Homo sapiens: one gene and its partners. The protein of the gene in region 1 purifies or fractionates together with the protein of each later gene. This does not show direct contact. Each region holds a gene or a part of one and is shown on either strand. Other genes may lie near its edges.

Region 1 (5,700 bases):
TCTTTGAAGTTCTCTTAGAAGCTTACAGTCTGCAGAAGATGTGGCTGGAGAAATAAACAGAGGCCATATCATGAAAACATCAGACTTTCCTGAAAGCCAAGAACGAGGGTTGAGTATGTTTTCTCTCTCCACTAAGTGCTTGAAGGCCAGCATCTGTAGCAGTGTTAGTCACCCTGAGTGCTCACAGAAGAGTTTATCCACATGAAGCATAAAATAAACATTTTAAAAATAAAGGGAGCCTGGGGCTGGGCATGGTGGCTCACGCCTACAATCCCAGCACTTTGAGAGGCCCGGGCAGGCAGATCACGAGGTCAGGAGATCAAGACCATCCTGGCTAACATGGTGAAACCCTGTCTTGAGTAAAAATACAAAAATTAGCCAGGTGTGGTGGCACGCGCCTGTAGTCCCAGCTACTCGGGAAGCTGAGGCAGGAGAATCACTTGAACCCAGGAGGCGGAGGTTGCAGTAAGCCGAGATTGTGCCACTGCACTCCAGCCTGGGCAACAGAGCAAGACTCCATCAAAAAATAAATAAAATAAAAATAAAGGATGGCTAAGAATAAGTTTCTCTAGTCTGTTTTTATCCTTGAACCACAATCATACTCTTTATTATTATACAAACTTTTAAATATTGGTATCTGATACCGTAAGTCCTTCCATCATTTCCTCTTCTGCATCTGGTTCCACTTCCTTCCATGTATCTTTTATAATCACCTTATCAAATTATAATAAGGAAAAAGCACTAGCTGGGATTATATTGGGATTTATTAAATTTATAAATTAATTCCAGGAACGCTTGTTTCCTTAAATACACAGCTGCTTCTGGCTCACGCTCATCCTGAGGGAGTAGATGTTGGTAAACCAGCCTCATGTGCAGAGGGTCTCCTGCTGGATCCCCAACTGGAGCCATCCCTGGGCCTAGACTTCTGTCTCCCTCACTTCTAAATGAGTGCTCAGTGATGTGAAGTACACAGGAGTCCCTCAGGGCAAAAGTGGCTATGCCTGGTGCTACCCTCCCCATGACCCCAAAAACGAGAGCCATGAGACAATGCCACCTTAGCCATTTCCCTTGAGAGAAATGAAGGAGGAACAGACATAAGGCAGAGCCACCTGAGGTTTTTAGAATCTATATCTCACATACTGAACTAGTGTTTAATGGCTCTGAGAATAAAACCAAACCAAATCTTCCTTCCACTTGAGTTTCCAACATAAGGACACCTTACTCTCTGCACTTCTCCTTGACCAGGAGGCAGCACTCGGGGAAGCAGCACCAAGGCAGGCATCGTCATTCTGCATATGCAGGCCTTGACTGGCAGCAGAGCTCACTGTCCTGATGGGTACGTCAGTAGCACACAGAAGGTAAGGCTCACCGAGCACAGGCCATGAATCTCCTCTGCTCGACTGGATGTTCTCATACTCTTGGCTGGGAACATGACCTCTGCCTCGAGACCAACCCTCGCAAGGGCTAAGGGGCAGGGTGTGGTGTGGGCCCACTGTGGCCATGGGGAGGCCTTGGAGGGTGAAGCCAGGCAGGTGGCAGAGGAACAGGTGGACTGAGTGGTCCTGAGGAGCAGGCAGACGGGACCAGGGCCAACTTCTCACCCCTCCAGGATGAAGGGCCGAATCAGCTCTGGGTTCAACAGCGACTCCTCAAGAGGCCGGTCCACGTGGAAGTCATGGATGTGGGGGGGCCCTGGATGGGCCTTGGGGGCAGGTCCCCCTAGACGCTGAGGAATCGGCAGCTCAGATGGATGGGCAGGCAGGGGAGCTGTGAAGAAGTACTGATGGAGGAGAGCCTGAGGGTGGCAAGTAAGGAACAGCAGAAGGAAACTAGTCACCTCCCTGTCCCCAGCCTCAAGCAGATGTTCCTTCATCTATGCATTCAGCTGACTCAGTGTGTCTGGGTGTTTTCTGAGTGTCTACTATGTCTGAAGCACTATTCCAGAAGCTGGGAACATAGCCGTTAATAAAACAGACAAAAGCTCTGTTTTTCTGACATAAGTGAGGGTGGGGGGTAATAAACAAGATGAAGTAAAATACACAGTATGTCAGATAATGATTAGTGCAGTGGAAGAGAGAAAGCAAGACAGAGGAATGAGGAATCCTGGAGAGAGGTTGCAGATCTGAAGAGTCATGAGGGAAGGCCATCTGAGAAGTGACATTTAAGCCAAGACTTGAGACATAAGCAAGTGGGACATGAGGCTCCAGGCCAGGGACAAAAGTGTACTGACCCCTGGGGCTGGAGAGGAGTGAGCACAGGGCACAACAGCAGGCAGCGTCATGAGGTGATGGCACCCAAGCATACGACATCTGTGGGTCACAAAAAGGACCCTGGCTTTTCCTCTGAGATGGAGCCACAGGAGGGCCCTGGCAGAGAAGGAATGTGTCCTGTTCTACTTGGATAAAGTTACTCTGTCTGCCAGGTGGAGAAGAGATTAAATGGGATGAGGGGAGACCCAGATTCTGGGAGGCAACCCAAGAGATAAGGGTCACACGGCTTGGGTACACTGTGGACACAGAGCCCACAGGAGCTGCTGACAGTGGAGACCAAGAGGGCGTATGTAAACACACGCGGCTGGTGCTGAGTGCAGGGAGGGGACAGGGACCCCTGAGAGACACCCTGACACCTGTCAGCCCATGCTCCTGTGGTCATCGTCCTCCCAGGCCTACCAGCCATAACCAGCCTTCCTGGGTCCTCTCTTCCAGGCCTCTGCCCACCATTTCTCTCTTCAGCGAACACCTCCTCAAACATCTCATGCTTAAACCTGCCCTCCACCAGGAAGCTTTGCTTGACCCCAAAGTCGGCCTTGCCTCTCTCCTGGGGCTCCCACAGCTGGAGAACATGACCTCTTGTGACCTTTTGGACCTGGAGCTACCTCACCACCAGGAGTGCCCCGCGGAGGTAGGACTGATTGTTTACCATCTGTGCAGGGCCCAGGACAATCCCTGCATGTGCCAGATGTGCAGAAAATACTTGCTAATGGAATAAAGGAATGAGTCCCCAGTGACTCTCTTACTGTATCTGCCACAGGGTCAGGGGCAGCCCAGAAACCTGCACTCCCGGACACGCGCTCTCCTGAGAGTTGGGCATGCCCCTCGTATGGGCCACCCTCAGGGGAAGTCTGGGGATGTCCAGTGGGGTCTACTCATGAGAGGCACACCTGCTCCAAGGCCCCTGTCCCCTGGGTTCCAGATGTCTGGTGCTGGTCCATGCCAATCACAGGTTCTGAGGGTCGCTGATGTGATGGGGTCACATGGCTACCAAGTACAGAGTACCAGGGTGATGGGGAGGGGAGCTGAAGGAGCAGAGACTACAGCCTCTCCCCCTACCTTGGAAGCTGCGATGCGCTGGTGAGGAGGGTAGAGAAGGAATTGACCCAGCAGATCCAATGCCTGGGGAGAGACGTCAGGCAGCACCTCCTCCAGGGGCATGGGCACCTGCTCCTTAAAGGAGATCTTGTTGTAGTCCGGCAGCTCAGTGAGCTCCTGGGCCAGGGAGAAGGAACAGGGTACAATGAGAGTAGTTCCCGACCCTTGCCATGCTCTCTGCTGTCAACTCTCAGCCCCTAACACACACTCACATGGGGGGTGCTCTCCCATCCATGTGTCTCCCTGACCCATCATTCATTCACTCACCCACCCCTGTATTCCTTCATCCATCCCCTTGCCCTCTCAGATGACGACTCTGTGCACAGCTTGCTGAGACACTGCACATGTGTGTACTGGGGTGAAAAGGGACAAAGGACAGGATCTACCCCAACCCAAATGACAGCAGGAAGGAGGAAGCCCTGAGTTGGGCCAGGACAGTGGTCCCTGTCCATCAAGGGGGGTTGGGGCCAGGAGAGAGAAGGTTCAGGGGAGGGAGTGGTTACTTGCTGTTGGGAGTGGAGTAAACCTGCCCCACACCCACCTCACCAAGGGCCCCTACAAACCGGCCAGACTTGAGGGTTTGGGGTGCCCAAGATGCGAAGCACATAGCAAAGCTGTTCAATATCGTTCTTGCCCGGGAAAAGGGGGGACCCATTCAACAGCTCCCCCATGATGCAGCCCACAGACCTGTGGACACAGAGCCCCAAGCAGGTCAGAGATCTCCCACCATGGACCACAGACCCACCCACAGAGCAGCTCTAACACTGCACTCCAGGGCAAGGCCCCACAAGCCAGCCCTGGAGCCTCACGTCCAGAGGCCCAGTCCCTGAACCCTCAAAGCCCTCAACCCTAGAACCCAGAGCAAAGCCCCAGCTGTTCCAAGACTTCTCGGAGACTCCTGCTCTAGGACACTTCTGGGGCAGACCTGCAAACCTGCCCCAAATCTCAGACCCATGGGCACTGCCAACTATCTTCTTGCTGCAAAACAAGCTCAGAGCTTTCATGTCCAAGGACACAGGCCTCTGACCAGCTCAGAGATGCCATATCCTAGGATCTAACTCCAGCACATATCGGCTCAGACCACCTCCCCATCTAGCCCAGAAAGCTTCCCACCTGGGACCACCATTCTCATCCCACCTGGCCCCTACCCAGCTCGAAAACATCATAGTGAGGAACCCCAACCCCAAAGTGCTCAGAATACCCCAACCAGGGAAGACACCCTTAAGGAAGCCTAAACTCCCACCAGGGAAAAGACCACCAAACAGCTCAGAGACCTCAGAGCCTAGCAGAAATCCATGAGCCATGTTACCCTTTGACCACCCACAGGGGTCTCACCACAGATCGACGCCCTGGTCATACTGGCGGGCACCATACAGGAGCTCGGGGGCTCGGTACCACCTGCGAGGAAGAGGGCTGGCAGGCACTGGGCTGAGAAAAGGATGCCTGGGGAGGTGACCCCAGCCCCACAAGCAATGTCTGGAGAAAAGGCCCAGAAGCATCTCTTCCCCATGGAGAAGACTGGAAGGGATCTGGCCCTCCCTACCTGGTGGCCACCTGGTGTGTGTAGAGGCGGCTGCCGTCTGGGGAAAAGACTCGAGCCAGGCCAAAGTCCGCTATCTTGAGCTGGCCTGAGGCGCTGATGAGCAGGTTGGCAGGTTTCAGGTCCTGGGAGTACCAAAAGAAGCATCAGTCCCTCCAAATCCCCCATAGGACCTTGGGACAAGCGGGCTTGGCAGTCTAACCACTCAGGTCAGCCCCGGTCCCCACCTCCTCCAGGGCCATGCCCTGGCCACTTACCTGGAGGCCTTGACCAGCTCTGTCCCAACTTCTTATCACACCTTTTACAAGGGCTAGCCCCATCCCCAAGCCAAGTCAGCTCCCCAGACCCCATGCCCGGCCTATGCTGAGACTGACCCGATGTACAATGTTGTTGGCATGGCAGAAGGCGACACCCTTGAGCAGCATCTGCAGGTAGCTCTTGACCTGTGCCTGGGCTAGTGGCCTCTGGGCATGGCGCACCACCTCGGCCAGATCCGACAGCATGAACTCAAAGGCCAGCACAAAGCCTCCACCGTGTGGGAACACAGCCTTCAGTTGTACCACCTGTGGGCAGGACATCTTGTTAGCCCCCAGACTCAAGTCACCAGACCCTCTCTGTGACCCTGAGACCCCAGCCCATGCCCTGACAGAGGACCCTGTATCCAAAAAGACAGTAAGCAAAGAAGGTGACGTGGACCTGAGCTAAGAATCAGAGAGCTCGATGCTCATGATTTGCTCTGCTCTCCTGAGATAAGGTGTGCCCCCACTCTAATTCTCCATGAACACTAAAAGG
Region 2 (7,455 bases), on another chromosome or scaffold:
TACATTCTCTTCCCTTCCCACCATCTGATCCTCCCCCAACCCTAACTCCTCCCCCTCGTGGGGGGGAACTTCTGAATCATCTTCTTCCCTCCCTGGCACCCCCGGCACCGAGAAGTCCTCGTGGAATGTTTGCTGAAGTTCTGAAGCGATCCACAGTTGGCCAACCATTACATGATGTCATCTGATTCTCCAACAACCCTGCAAAGCCGCAGCGTGGCCTATTTGACAGGCAGCACTGAGGTTCGGAGGGAAGGGAGACCTGTCCAAGGTTAAGTGACAGGTTCATGGCAGGGCCAAGTTTCCCTGCTCAGCAGGGATTAAGGATGCATCTCTGGGGGAAGGAATGGGAGCGGGAAGGGTGTTCCTCTGTACAATGTCCTGTAGAAGGGTCTGCCATGTGGCCTTACCCACTTGCTCCCACCCCAGCTCCCTGACTTTTTTTTTTTTCTTTTTTGAGGCAGGGTCTCACTCTGTCACCCAGGCTGAGTGCAGTGGCTCCATCACAGCTAACTGCAGCCTCGAACTCCCAGGCTCAAGCGATCCTCCCACCTCAGCCTCCTGAGTAGCTGGGACTACAGGCACATACCACCATGCTCAGCTAAGTTTTTCCACTTTTTGTAAGGACAGGGTCTCACTCCATTGCCCAGGTTGGTCTCAAATTCCTGAACTCAAGCCATCCTGCTGCCTCAGCCTCCCAAAGTGCTGGGATTACAAGTGTGAACCACCACACCTGGCCTCCCTGACTTCTTGAGGCAGCACCTCATCTCCCAGCAAAAGGGGCTCCTCCCCCCTGAACCCCCATGGTCACTTTTGACTTGGGGGACCAGCTTCCTCCCCAATCTTGCGATGATCCCATCTTTCAAATGTTTCTGGGCACCCCCCCAATAGTACCCACCCCTCACACTACCCTGCCTACTGCGGTCGAGAGACTCTGCAGCGCTGTGGAGCTGAGGGCAGGGTATTGGGACCCGGTCTTCCCATGTGGAAAACGGAACAGCACACCAGGCAGTTCCCCTCCCAGGGGAGTTGCAAGGGTAGAAAATGTAATGAAACCCTCAGATACTGGAGCAGGGCAGCCATGGGTTCAAATCTGACACCTTTACACTAACATCTCTCATTCCAGGGACCCCGGTGGCAGCCACGTGGCACTTGCTGCCAACCACAGGGCACTGCTGGCCATCAGGTGTGCCTCACCTGGCACTGGAGTAAGCAGGGCTCCAAGTGTCCTGGTGCCAGGCTCACCTCCCCTCACCTGCTCAGGAACACCGCCCGTTAGTGTTCAGAACACCCCTTTCACAGATGGAAAAAACGAAGCTCAGAAAGGAGACATTTACCCTCAGTCACAGACCAACATTGCTGGTAAATGCCCCAGGGTGGGGGTGAAGACGATGGGGAATGGGGAAGACGATTTGGAGGGCTTGGATGCCCAGTGCTGAGCCCGGTGTGGGGTGCAGGTGCAGGCCTGGGAAGACAGGAGACCCAGCTCTGCAGATTCACTGCCTGTGACCTGGGCAAGGAGGTCACCACACAGCCTCAGTGTCCTTGGAGTCCTTATATTTACCCTATAGAGGATAGTCAGGGCCTGGGCACATGGCCTGAGCTCACTCAATGGTGGGAATGACGCAAGAACAAGTTTTGGAGCCGGGATCGGGCCAACAGGGGTCGCTGTGGAGGCACATGTGGTCGCGGGGAGGCCAAGGGCGGGTCTGAAGGAGAGCGGGGGCGGCTGCACCCTGGCATTCACCTGGGGGTCACCCGCAGGCCGCAGTGCTGGCCAGGGGCCCACGTCTCATCCTGGAGGCCACTGCTCGGGTGCACACAGCCCACTTCCTGCGGGCATCCAGCTGGGTGACGCCCCCCCCCACCGCTGGACAGCGGGTCCCTGTCATGGTTACGGCAGCTCCCCCAAACCTGCTCTGGTCCCTGGAATAAGGGGTTAAACCGGTCGGCTGACTTCTCCTGCTCCTCAAAGTCCAGACGCTTCAAGGTGGAGAGACGGGGAAACTGAGGCCAGAACGGGGTAGCTAGTTGTTCGCAGTCGCGCTAGGGGACCCGGTCCTCCGTATTCCAAGGGGGGCACCGTGGGCCATTAGGGAGCGACGGGGAAAGTGGAAAGGAGACGCGCTTCGTGCCCACCGCCCCGAGTTAGAGCCGAACCAGCCCGGGACCGAGCGAGACGGAGCGGCTGCGGGCCGCGTCTCGGGTCCCCGCGCCACGTTTAGTGCCGCTGCGGCCTCCCGGCCAGTCCCCCCTACTCTCTAAGCCTCAGTTTCCCGGTCTAGGAAAAGGGCTTCGAATGTTGCGGGTCTGGCACTGCTGGGGCAAAGGCAGAACAATCTGGAGGGCGGCCGGGATTGGAAGTCCGGGAAAGACTTCGGCCATCCAACATTCCCTGGGGGGACGGGGCTCAGGACGCGGAGGGTCGCTCCGCGGGGGAAGGGGACGACCGGCTGTCTTGGCCGGAGGGGAACCGGACGGGATGACCTCATCCGCGGCTCCAGCCTGGAATGCGGCGGTCGGGGAGGGGGGCAGGGTGCCTGTCCATCTCCCCGGGCCCCCCACCCCCCACTTCCCGCTCTCCGCGTGGGCCTCGGCGGAGGGGAGACATTCCGCCGCGTCGCCCGCTGCCCGCCCCGGCCCTTCCTTCCCCCGCGCAGGAAGGCGCGGAGACAGCCCCCGCTCTGCCCCTCGGCTCGCCCCCTCCTCGCGCATTTTGGCCGCTCAGCCGTGTCCGATCCTCTGCCCCCTCCACCAGCCTGGAACGGGACACGAAGCCCGAAAGCTCGGAGTTTCCTCGCGCGGCTCCGCGGCCGCGCCCGGCCTTCCTGTGGGCACCCGGGGGCGCCTCTCCCGGGCGGGTCCCGTCCCCGTTCCGGCCCCGGGAGCCTAGTAGGGTGCAGAGTCCCCGCGGGCGCCGGGACCCGCCGGCCTCCACGGCCTCCGCCCCGAGGACCCGCGCGCCCGGGCTGTTACCTGGCTCCGCGAGCCCCGGGGGCGCGGGACGAGGGCGGACTCGTCGTCTGCAGCGGCGGCGGCCGCGCGTCCCGGCTGGCAGCCCGGGAGAGTCGCTGGGCCGGTCTGCGCCGCCCTGGCCGCGGGCTCCGCGGGCTGGATCCGGGGGCGGGGGCGGGGTGTGGGCGCTCCCGCCTCCCGCCCGTCTCCTCCCGCCCGCGGGCGGGGCCCGGCCCCCTCCCCGGCCCCCTCCCCGGCACCGTCCTCGCGGCCGCCGAGAGCTGGCAGGGACGCGGCTGGGGGGCCAGGCCAGGCCTCTGCTCGCCACCCCGGACAAGGCCAGCCGGGGAACGTGCGGGCTGCCCCGGGGAGGCGACTCCGGTCCCCGGCCGCCAACCCCTCTTCCACCGGTTCCCCTCGTGGCCTTGCTTGGGGCGTCCAGGCCTGATGAACTCTCCTCCCTCCTGGGCCCTCCAGCCGCGCCCTGCGGGAGTTCGGGGAACCGGGAAGCTCGATCTGAGGCCTTGAATGCCTGGGCCTTTAAACCTTGATGTTTACAGGCATGACATGCCCACTCCTTTGCTCCCCATTCTCATTCCCTTCCATCCGGTACAGGCCCCGCGGTGCCCAGGAGGAAGACAGCCATACTGGGGCGACTGGTAGAGTGGGGTAGAGTGGCCGTCAAGACCGGGACCCTGGAGCCGGACAGCCTGGGCTCCTGTCCTGCCTCAGTCACTACTTACCTTTCTCTGCCTCAGTTTCCTGATCTGAAAGTGGGATAGATAATAGCAGCATCAGATGTTGTGTGAAGTGTTTCCTGCTCCAAGAGCACCTAGGAGGCTTGCTCGGCAGGTAAATGAAGTCGCATCTCAGAGACTTTACAGACCCTCCCCCCACCCCGCCCACCTCCATGGAGGGCAGGGAATCAGCCATACCCGGGACCCTGTGCCATCCTCAAGGAGGGGAGATAGATCTCTGGCCCCTGCCTCCCGTTGTTGTGCCCTCCTTTGACTACTCCCATCTGACTATAGAGTCCTCGGGCTGTCAGGGCACAGAGAGGTCCCTAATACTTCCTGCAGGGCCTGGGGGCTCAGGAAATCTTCCTAGAGGAGATGATACCTGAGTTAAGTCTCTCTCTCTCTCTTTTTTTTTTTTTTTTTTTTTTTTTTTTTTTTTTTTTTTTTTTTGAGACGGAGTCTCTCTCTGTTGCTCAGGCTGGAGTGCCATGGCATGATCTCAGCTCACTGCAGCTTCCACCTCCCGGGTTCAAGCGATTCTCCCTCCTAAGCCTCCGGACTAGCTGGGATTACAGGCACCCACCCACGCCCGGCTAATTTTTGTATTTTTTAGTAGAGAGGGGGCTTCACCATGTTGGCCAGGCTGGTCTTGAACTCCTTACCTCAGGTGATCCGCCTGCCTTGGCCTCCTCAAGTGCTAGGATTATGGGTGTGAGCCACTGCATGGTTGTGAGTTAAGTCTTAAAGGACGTGTAGGCAGAGGGAAGGGCAGTGGAAATGCACAGTGCACAGCTGGCAAGGGACAGCACAGCAAAGGCTGGGAGTGGAGGACCCTGCAGCGGAGGCAAACCCGGCTGAAGGAGACTGGCTGAGCGCTGTTGTGGCCGGGGATGAGGAGCTGTATTTACCCGCAGGTGGAGGAGACAAGGTCTTTACTGTTCACCCAGGGGCTAGGCCTCTTCCACTGGCTCCCTGAATCCCCATGCTGGCCACCAAGGGAAGGAGCTATTTCTGCAGCTGGACAAATGAGGAAACAGAGGCACAAAGCATTCTAGCATTTGCTCAAGTGGCACAGCAGTAGGAACTCTTTCCCTGGGGGCCGGCCCAGGAGTATTTTGTCCCATGGAGAACTGGAACAGCATCAGGACAGTGAGCCAGCAGGCAGCACTGGCAGGTGTACATTTAGAAGACTGACTGTTGCCCGGCGTGGTTGCTCACGCCTGTAATCCCAGCACTTTGGGAGGCTGAGGTGGGCAGATTACTTGAGGCTGGGAGTTTGAGACCAGCCTGACCAATATGGTAAAACTCCGTCTCAACTAAAAATACAAAAATTAGCCAGGCGTGGTGGCGGGTGCCTGTAATCCCAGCTACTCGGGAGGCTGAGGCAGGGAGAATTGCTTGAACCTGGGAAGCGGAGGTTGCAGTGAGCTGAGATCGCACCACGGCACTCCAGCCTGGTCAACAGAGCGAGACTCCATCTTAAAAAATAAAAATAAAAAAGTGCCGGGCGCGGTGGCTCACACTTGTAATCCCAGCACTTTGGGAGGCCGAGGCGAGCAGATCACTTGAGGTCAGGAGTTCGTGACCAGCTTGGCCAACATGGTGAAATCCTGTCTCTACTAAAAATACCAAAAATTAGCCGGGCATAGTGGTGGGCGCCTGTAATCCCAGCTATTCAGGAGGCAGAGGCAGGAGAATTGCTTGAATCTGGGAGACGGAGGTTACAGTGAGCTGAGATCGTGCTACTGCACTCCAGCCTGGGCGACAGAGCGAGACCCCATCTCAAAAAAACAAAAAACAAAATAGAAATCTGACTGTGAGTGAAGAATGGACTGGAAGGACAGTGATGGAAACAAAGAACTAGTGCTACTGTGGTTATTACTATTAATAGCATCAGTAGTAACCAGCACTTATTGAGCACCTGATGCATACCAGGTCCTGTAGCTCATTAACATGCATTATGACATTTAATTCTTGTGAGAGCCCCATAGGGAAAGTCCTGCCATGGTGTCCCTTTTGCAGATAAGTGAAGTGATTTGCGTAAAGCTCCCTACTTTGGCAGGATGGCCATACTTTCCAGTTTGCCTAGGACAGCCCAGATTACACATACTGTTCCAGTGTAATTATTAATAGCACTTCCTTTCATTCTCAAAGGTGACCTGGTTAGACAATCAATTACACGTCACTCTAGTCAGAGGATCCCTAGAGCGGCTGGTAAAGGAGGCAGTCTGGTGCAATGTCAAAGGCCCTGAGCTCAAATCCTGGCCCAGTGGCTGACCGTGGGCAAAGCACTTGGCCCATTTGAGCCTCAAGTTTCTCATCTCTGAAATGGGTATAATAGCAGTGTGGGTATTTACTAGTTGGGGTGTTGTGAGCCCCAGGCAGATGACTGAGCAAGCAGTCCTGATGGAAGTGGTTACAACCTGCCCCATGCTTGCTCCATCTTCTTCACCCGCGGGCAGGGAGGGCAGGCAGGAAAGAACAAGAGGTTGAGAACCTCCCTACTATATATGCCACACGCTTTGTCTTCTCCAGCTCATTGACAGGCAACCTGTGAATCAGGAATTCTTGCCCCCTTTTACATCTGGGTAAGCTGAGGCAGAGAGGAGCCCTCTCCCTCCTTTGCAGCCTGCCTCCAGATAGAAACCTATCTCCATGTAGGCTGTGCCCTTGTTCCTGGCTCCACTCCTGATTTAAGGATCTGACTCAGTTTTTCCCTCTGGAAAACGGGAGAAAGGGAGAAGTTTCAATATCCCCAAGAAGGATCCAGGGTTGGGCAGTCTCCCTTTATCATGCTTTTCTCCTCCCCCAATTTCCTGCGGTCCCCTTCCTTCCCTTTGAGAGGCTGTGCCCAGGAGTGCAGGGGTTAACCTTGGCAGGGCTGTAATCATCGTGCAGAATGCAGAACAAATGCCTCCCAGCTGGGGACGGGGAGCTGCTAGGTGAACCAACCGCCCAGAGCTCAGGATCCCCTACCTCCCTGTCTTGAAGGAACCAGGCTCCTCAGGCTATAGTCCCAGGGCTCAGCTGCCCCCTCCACTCAGCCCAGCAGATTGGGTTGGCCAAGGCAAGGGGCCTAAGGGAAGGAGGCAGGTCCTGGGCAGGGAGCAGTCTATGGAGCCAGGGAGGAGGGGGCAGGGCAGAGCTACGGAGAAGTATTTCCTCCTTGGGGACCCAGGAATGCCAGTGGCTGCTTCCAGGTTCCAGGGAGGTTTGGGATGGGAGCCTTCAACTGAGGCCACAACTATCAGCCCCTCCCTAGGGTGCATGTCCCCTTTGTACCCCAAAGTCTGGCTGGGCTTTTGGTCAGTTAATGCATCTGCTCATTGACCACTGATTGGTCTTTCCCGTTCTCCAGCTCTTGAGTGTCCACTGGTCCATCCATCTGTCGATGCGATCGCTAATTCATCCATCTACCCACTGCCCACTCCCCTGTCCATCCATCTGCCCTCCCTTCCATGCACCCATTTACCCACCTACTTCCTGTCCATGTCTTGATCTGCTACTCACATACATCCAATCACTCAACCACTTACTTACCCACCCTTCCATTGACCCATTGCCTATCCCCCATTCATCCATCCATCCACTTATGCACCCATCCAGCCGCCTACACACCCATGCATCCTTCCACCCCATCATCCATTTACCTACCTGTACACCCACCCACCCACTCTACCCAGCATTGTTTGATCCACTGCCCACACCCGTGGCCATCTACTCACCCACCTGTCCATCTACTCCTTCCACTTCCATCCTGTAATGC
Region 3 (7,339 bases), on another chromosome or scaffold:
GGCTGAGGCAGGAGGATCACTTGAGGTTAGGAGTTTGAGACCAGCCTGGTCAACATGGTGAGACCCTGTCTCCACTAAAAATACAAAAATTAGGGGCCAGGTGTGCTGGCTCACACCTGTAATCTCAGCACTTTAGGAGGCCAAGGCAGGTGGATCACCTGAGGTCAGGAGTTCGAGACCAGCCTGGCCAATGTGGTGAAACCCTGTCTCTACTAAAAATACAAAAATCAGCCAGGCATAGAGGTGGGCACCTGTAGTCCCAGCTACTCAGGAGGCTGAGGCAGAAGAATCGCTTGAACCTGGGAGGCGGAGGTTGCAGTGAACTGAGATCGCACCACTGCATTCCAACCTGGGTGACAGAGTCAGACTCTGTCTCAAAAAAAAAAAAAAAAGTAGTAAGATTTTTATCAGTAGTGGTGGTGATATTTAGTAATATTTCTGTTCCATCAGTGTCAATATGATTGGAAACTATTGCTACAGTATTGTTATTACAATTGATAGTGGTAATGATATCTTATTATTTGCATGGGCACCAGCATTATTTGGTATATTAGATATCAGTACTATACTAGTAGCAAGACGTCTTCCACAGAAAACTAACATTTCTCTTGTTTTCAGTTGCTGTGATGGGGTATGTTGGGGGGAACATGTGGGGGCTCATGTAGTTTTCTTCTTGTAGGATTGCTCTGAGCATTTACAATACTATCACTACTGTGAACCAACCAGAAGGCTGAACAAAATAACATTCCTCTGATCCACTTGACCCCAGAACACATTTTTTGTTTTGGAAGTTGGGGTCTCGCTGTGTTGCCCAGGCTGGCGTGCACTCAGGACACATTTTTCAGAGCCCAAGCATGTGTCAGACAAATGCCAAAAAAAGATGCATTGATGGGGTTAGGAGCTGCCAGCGCCTGGCGTGCTGGCTGTGTGGCTCTGGGCAGGTGACTCAGCCTCTCTGAGCCACTGTTAGCAGATCTGGGAAACGGGGACACAGCACATTGTGCATGTGTGTGAGTCAGTGGATAGAGTACATCAATGTGAAGCATCTCCAGTAGTTGCCTCTGGCTGGTGATCACGGTGGTGACCACGTGACTTCCAACCCTCACAGCACAGATGGGGAAATGAGGCTCAGGGGACGAGAGGGCCAGGGCCAAGGGCACCCTGATCCACCTTTGCTCCTTACCCAGAATGTCCAGCCACTCTTCTGGGGCCGGGGCTGGGGCGGGCTCGGGCTCCATGGCAGCAAGGAACTCTCGGGCCAGGGCCCCAGGCTGCTCAGCCTCCTCCGCCGGGGGTTGTCCCATGTCCTCCAGCGGTGGCAGCTCACTCAGGTCATCCTCTTCCTCCTCTTCCTCCTCCTCTTCCTCCTCACCCTCTGCATCCTCAACCCCATCCAGTACCTCGAAGTCCTCGAGCGGTGGGACCCCGGCGGGCAGTGGGGCAGAGGGCTCAGAGGGTTCAGCACACGATGCCATGCTGCTGGGGGGACAGGAATTGGCCCTGGAAGTGGGGGGCAGAGATGTGGGTCAGAATCCTACACAGCCCCTCAAAGTCTCCACTGTACTGATTCCCCACACTGCCGATCACTTTCTGTGTAACTCAAGGGCTCCAGGCCTCAGTTTCCTCATCTATACAGTGGGTGTAACAACAACCCCAGCTTGTTGGGAGAAATTAACCCATGCATCAAGCCCTTGGCATCAGGCTCAAATAGTGTTAGCCATTATTAGAGCTAATTATTATTTAATGTTTACAAATACTCCAGGAAGTAGGGAAGATTCCCCTCAACATTTTGCAGAACAGGAAACAGGCCAGAGGGGCAAAGGCATTTGCCCAAGGTCACAGAGAAAGCCAAAGGCCAAAGGAGGATTTGAACCTGGGGCTTCAGGCCCTGTGGCTTTGCCTGATTATAAGCTGAGCGAAGGGTGCTGGGATTTTTGTGGAGAGGACAGCCTCCGAGGCCTTAGGGAAGCCATTTTTAGAGCCTCTAAGGCCACTGGGGGAAATTGAATCTTTTACCAGGGCCTCCCACCTCCAGCCTCTTCTCCAAAGGGGAGACCCTCCCCAAAAGCACCAACTGTAATCACCCAGAAACCCCAAGCGTTTTTTCCTTCCACACTCTGAATCTAACACTATCCCCCACAACCCCAACATCAGGGACCCTGGCCCAAATCCTTCCCCAGGAGACCATCCTCCTCTCATCAGGCCTCGGTCCCACCCCCTCAAAGCAGCCTCCTTTCCAGGAGTGGTCGAGGTCCCACCACATTCTACAGCCTCTTCCTTGCCCCAGACCTCCTGAACCAATAACCAACCCCTCCGTCCCCCAGGCCCCAAGCTCAGAAGAGTGTGGCACAGCCATCAAACCAGCCCGCCGCATCCCCTCCCTAACCCTCACCTGCCTGCTCCTCCCGGGCTCGGAGCCCCACTTTGAGAGACCCTCCCAGCCCCCACCCCCATAATTCCCCGCGCCCGCACAATTCGGCCTCCCCTCCCACCCCCCACCCCAACCACCACCGCCCCCAGCACGGGCCAGCTCCCCCCACAGCCGCTCCGTCTCGCCGTAAACACTCCAGTGTCCCCAGACGCCCCCCCCTTTCCGATCCCATAACACCCCACGCTCTCCTGACGCCCCACAGCCCCGGCCGGGCCCTCAGTCAAGCCGCGACCCAGGCCCCCAACGACCCACGCCTGTCTGACGCCACCAGTCTGGGGCACCCGACCCCCGCACGCCTCGGGCGCCCCTGGCCCTGCACGCCTCCATCGGGACCCCCCCACTGGATCCCCTTTGCCCCCAGTGACCCCCATCCCTGGCCACCCCCGCCCGGCCGCGCCCCCTCGGGCACCCCCGACCCCCGTGCCCCCCCGGCTCGCCACCCCCGCGGCCCCTCGCCCCGCCCATCGGCCGCAGCCCCCGGCGCGCTAGCCCCCGGACCAGCCTAGGCCAGGGCAGCGGCCCGGCCGGCACGGCGCCCCCAGCACCCCAGGACACTTGCCTCTGGCTCCGGGACCCCCACTTGGGGTCCTGCGCCCCCCTCCCCGCCCCCAGCCGCGGCCGCCGCGCCTCGGGAACCAGGTTCGGCCGCTTGGCCCCGCCCCTGCCGTGCCCATTGGCCGCCGCTGCCGCGACTGCCGCACCCGTTGGCTCATGCAGACGTCCGTCCCGGGCGTTGGCACCTCCCCCTTCCTGCTTGGCCCCGCGGGGCGTTCTTAAAGGGACCGAAGCCTCCCGGCTGCTGGGGCTGGGGCGGGGGCTGGGGCGGGGGCTGGGGCGGGGGCTGGGGCGGGGGCGGGGGACCCTGGGCTGGACCCCAACACGGGTCAGTATCGCGCAGCCTGTGCGACTCCTGCCTCTCCTCTGAGCTTCATCCTGACCATCTGCGAAATGGGGATAAACACCCCCATCTATGCACTCTCACCTTGGGGGCTGCTGGGGGCACAGTCCACTCTAAATGTTATTTCCTTAAAGAGTTCAAGCTTGACGGGCAGGGCAGCTCTGGGGTTGCTGAATGACCCATCCTGAAGCCTTAGTTACAGAAGTGAACCTGAGGGCCTGAGGAGGAGTGACGTGCCCAAAGGCATACAGAAACCTCCCTCCCATCCCCCACACAGTTTAATGTCTAGAAGGTTGCCTGGTGCATACTGGAGGCGCTCGATTACTGCTGCGCAGGCGACTGAGCCAGCAGGGCCACTGGGAGGAGTTCCTCCTCTATGCACTGTCTGCTGGAGGGTGATAAGGTCCCCATGGCTCGGGAAGAAGGTGGCATCCTTGATTAGCTAAGTTTTTGTGGATCTTGTTTTGAAACCGGGACACTTCTCCCTCCTTCACTCAGTTTTATTTCCTTCCTAGCAGTTACTCCTTCCAGAATTATCTTGTCATTATTTTGCTTGTGGTTGGAGGGACCATCCCTCACTCTGCTTCATCCTGGCAGAGATTTTTACCTGATTTGTACCCAGCACCTCCTTGAACCATGCCTGGCATCTATAGAAGCTCAATAAATGGGTAGGTGGATGGATGGATGGATGGATGGATGGATGGATGGATGGATGAGTCAGACACCAGCTTTTGGAGGTAGCTATCATGGAGGTGGTAACTGGCTTTTTGGAGATCACTTCTAAGGTTGGAGTTCCCAGGTTACCTCCTACAGGAAGCCCTCCCAACCTCCCCAAGGCAAGACCAGGTGCCCCCTTTAGCTGTCTTGGCACAATGAAGTTGATGAACGTCCACTTCATAACTAGTTTACTTGGGTTTTTTGTTTGTTTGTTTGTTTTTGTTTTTTGAGAAGAAGTTTCACTCTTGTTGCCCAAGCTGGAGTGCAATGGCGCAATCTCAGCTCACCGCAACCGCTGCCTCCCAGGTTCAAGCGATTCTCCTGCCTCAGCCTTCCAAGTAGCTGGGAGTAGAGGCATGCACCACCATGCCTGGCTAACTTTGTATTTTTAGTAGACACGGGATTTCTTCATGTTGGTCAGGCTGGTCTCAAACTCCCGACCTCACGTGATCCGCCCACCTCGATGTACCAAAGATTACAGGCATGAGCCATCGTGCCTGGCCTTTTTTTTTTTTTTCTTTCTCTTTTTTTTTTGAGACAGAGTCTCTCTCTGTCGCCAGGCTGGAGTGCAGTGGCGCGATCTCGGCTCACTGCAACATCCACCTCCTAAGTTCCAACGATTCTCCTGCTTCAGCCTCCTGAGTAGCTGGGACTACAGGCACCCGCCACCATGCCCAGCTAATTTGTATATTTTTAGTAGAGACAGGGTTTCACCATGTTGGCCAGGATGGTCTGGAACTCCTGACCTCATGATCTGCCTGCCTCGGCTTCCCAAACTAGTTTACTTATATCTCTGCCTTTTTTTTTTTGAGATAGGGTCTTACTTTGAAACCCAGGCTGGAGTGCAGTGGCACGATCTCAGATCACTGCAACCATGTCTATCTCCTGGGCTCACGCAATCCTCCTGCCTCAGCCTCCTGAGTAGCTGGGCCCACAGGTGCACCATCATGTCCAGCTAATTTTTTTTTTTTTTTTTGAGACAGAGTCTCGCTGTGTAGCCCAGGCTAGAGTGCAGTGGCGCAATCTCGGCTCACTGCAAGCTCCGCCTCCCAGGTTCACACCATTCTCCTGCCTCAGCCTCCCAAGTAGCTGGGACTACAGGCGCCTGCCACCATGCCCGACTAATTTTTTGTATTTTTAGTAGAGTCAGCGTTTCATCGTGTTAGCCAGGATAGTCTCGATCTCCTGACCTTGTGATCTGCCCACCTCGGCCTCCCAAAGTGCTGAAATTACAGGCGTGAGCCATCGCGCCCGGCCCAATGTTTATATTTTTTGTAGAGATGGGGTTTCCCCATGTTGCCCAGGCTGGTCTCGAACTCCTGGGCTCAAGCAATCCTCCCACTTTGGCCTCCCAAACTGTTGGGATTATAGGCGTGAGCCACTGCTTTGATTTACCTCTGCCTTGCCCTCTACACTGGCAGAGCCCCAAAGTCTGGGAAGGCTTTGTTCTTTCTCATTGTTATAGCTCTGAGGCTTGCACAGTGCCTGCCACAAAAGGTAGTGGTGGGGTCTCACGGAAATCACTGAGGAAGGAAGGGAGGTTAAAGGTGGTAGCATAGCAGAGCTATGTAAGAAATCACCTGGAGGGCTGGGTGCGGTGGCTTATGCCAGTAATCCCAGCACTTTGGGAGGCCGAGGTGGGTGGATCACCTGAGGTCAGGAAATCTAGACCAGCCTGGCCAACATGGTGAAACCCCGTCTCTACTAAAAATACAAAAATTAGCCGGGTATGGTGGTGCATGCCTGTAATCTCAGATACTGGGGTGGCTGAGGCATGAGGACTGCTTGAACCCCAGGGGTGGAAGTTGCAGTGAGCAAGACCCAGTCTCAAAAACAGCCTTTGGGAGGCTGAGGCAGATGGTTCACCTGAAGTCAAGAGTTCGAGACCAGCCTGGCCAACATGGTGAAACCTGTCTCTGCGAAAAATACAGAAATTAGCCGGGTGCGGTGGCACATGCCTGTAATCCCAGCTACTTGGGAGGTTGAGGCAGGAGAATCGCTTGAACCCGGGAGGCAGATGTTGCAGCGAGCCAAGATCACGTCACCGTACTCCAGCCTGGGCAACCTAAGCCTGGGTAACGTAGTGAGAGCCTGCCTCTACAGAATATTAATTAATTAATTTGGAGACACAGTCTCCCTCTGTCTCCCACGTAGAGTGCAGTGGAACGATCTGGGCTCACTGCAACCTCTGACTCCCAGGTTCAAGCGATTCTCCTGCCTCAGCCTCCTAAGTAGCTGGGATTACAGGCGCCTGCCATGACACATGACTAATTTTTTTTTTGAGACAGAGTCTAGTGAGGCTGGAGTGCAATGGTGTGATCTCGGCTCACTGCAACCTCTGCCTCCCAGGTTGAAGCAATTCTCCTGCCTCAGCCTTCCTAGTAGCTGGGATTACAGGCGCCTGCCACCATGCCTGCCTAATTTTTTGTATTTTTAGTAGAGATGGGGGGGTTCCGCTATGTTGGCCAGGCTGGTCTTGAACTTCTGACCTTGTGATCCACCTGCCTTGGCCTCCCAAAGTGCTGGGATTACAGGCATGAGCCGTCACACCTGGCCTCTACAGAAAATTTAAAAATGTAGTCCCAGCTAAATGGGAGGCTGAGGTGGGAGGGATCCCTTGAACCCAGGAGGTCGAGGCTACAGTGAGTTATGATCAAAGTTCTGCACTGCAGCCTGAGCAACAAGGCAAGACGCTGTTTCTAAAATAATAGTAATAATTATTATTATAAATTAATAAGCTACTAAAATAAACTATAAAATAACACCACCAACAATAATAATAATGGCTGGCACTCATTGAACAGATATTTGCAGGCAAACATTTTACTTATATTTGCTTTTCCCTTTTTTTTTTTTTTGGGACAGAATCTCGCTCTGTCGCCCAGGCCGGAGTGCAGTGGCACGATCTCGGCTCACTGCCACCTCTGCCTCCCAAGTTCAAGCAATTCTCCTGTCTCAGCCTCTGGAGTAGCTGGGACTACAGGCACCAGCCACCAAGCCTGGCTAATTTTTGCATTTCTCGTGGAGACGGGGTTTCACTGTATTGGTCAGGCTGGTCTCAAACTCTTGACCTCGATCTCAAAAACAAAACAAAACAAAACAAAAACAAAAAAACAAGACTGCTCTACTTGGAGGCCATATCATTGGCTGCATGTAGAGTTGCAATTGTGTTTCCTGGTGAACTGAACCTTTTTTTTTTTGAGATGGAGTCTCAATCTGTCGCCTAGGCTGGAGTGCAGTGGCAAGATCTCAGATCACTGCAGCCTCTGCCCCTTGGGTTCAAGTGATTCTCC

The links.
Region 2: the proteins of CDK20 (region 1) and CDC42EP1 purify together in Homo sapiens (affinity purification with mass spectrometry; 2 studies listed by BioGRID and IntAct, with this or other methods). This does not show direct contact.
Region 3: the proteins of CDK20 (region 1) and FKBP8 purify together in Homo sapiens (affinity purification with mass spectrometry; 5 studies listed by BioGRID and IntAct, with this or other methods). This does not show direct contact.

The regions. Positions count from the first base shown.
Region 1 is NC_000009.12:87,965,865-87,971,564, forward strand, and holds the end of CDK20 (cyclin-dependent kinase 20), read right to left. Parts: intron 5,472-5,700; coding exon 5,283-5,471; intron 5,034-5,282; coding exon 4,912-5,033; intron 4,782-4,911; coding exon of another isoform or gene 4,767-4,781; coding exon 4,704-4,766; intron 4,056-4,703; coding exon 3,932-4,055; coding exon of another isoform or gene 3,911-3,931; exon of another isoform or gene 3,910-3,910; intron 3,486-3,909; coding exon 3,330-3,485; intron 3,004-3,329; exon of another isoform or gene 2,706-3,003; intron 2,310-2,705; coding exon of another isoform or gene 2,231-2,309; intron 1,809-2,230; exon of another isoform or gene 1,796-1,808; coding exon 1,598-1,795; 3' UTR 577-1,597; downstream 1-576. UniProt on the Homo sapiens protein: Required for high-level Shh responses in the developing neural tube.
Region 2 is NC_000022.11:37,556,107-37,563,561, reverse strand, and holds the start of CDC42EP1 (cdc42 effector protein 1), read right to left. Parts: upstream 3,083-7,455; 5' UTR 2,974-3,082; intron 1-2,973. UniProt on the Homo sapiens protein: Probably involved in the organization of the actin cytoskeleton. Induced membrane extensions in fibroblasts.
Region 3 is NC_000019.10:18,540,496-18,547,834, forward strand, and holds the start of FKBP8 (peptidyl-prolyl cis-trans isomerase FKBP8), read right to left. Parts: upstream 3,079-7,339; 5' UTR 2,991-3,078; intron 1,501-2,990; 5' UTR 1,476-1,500; coding exon 1,184-1,475; intron 1-1,183. UniProt on the Homo sapiens protein: Constitutively inactive PPiase, which becomes active when bound to calmodulin and calcium. Seems to act as a chaperone for BCL2, targets it to the mitochondria and modulates its phosphorylation state.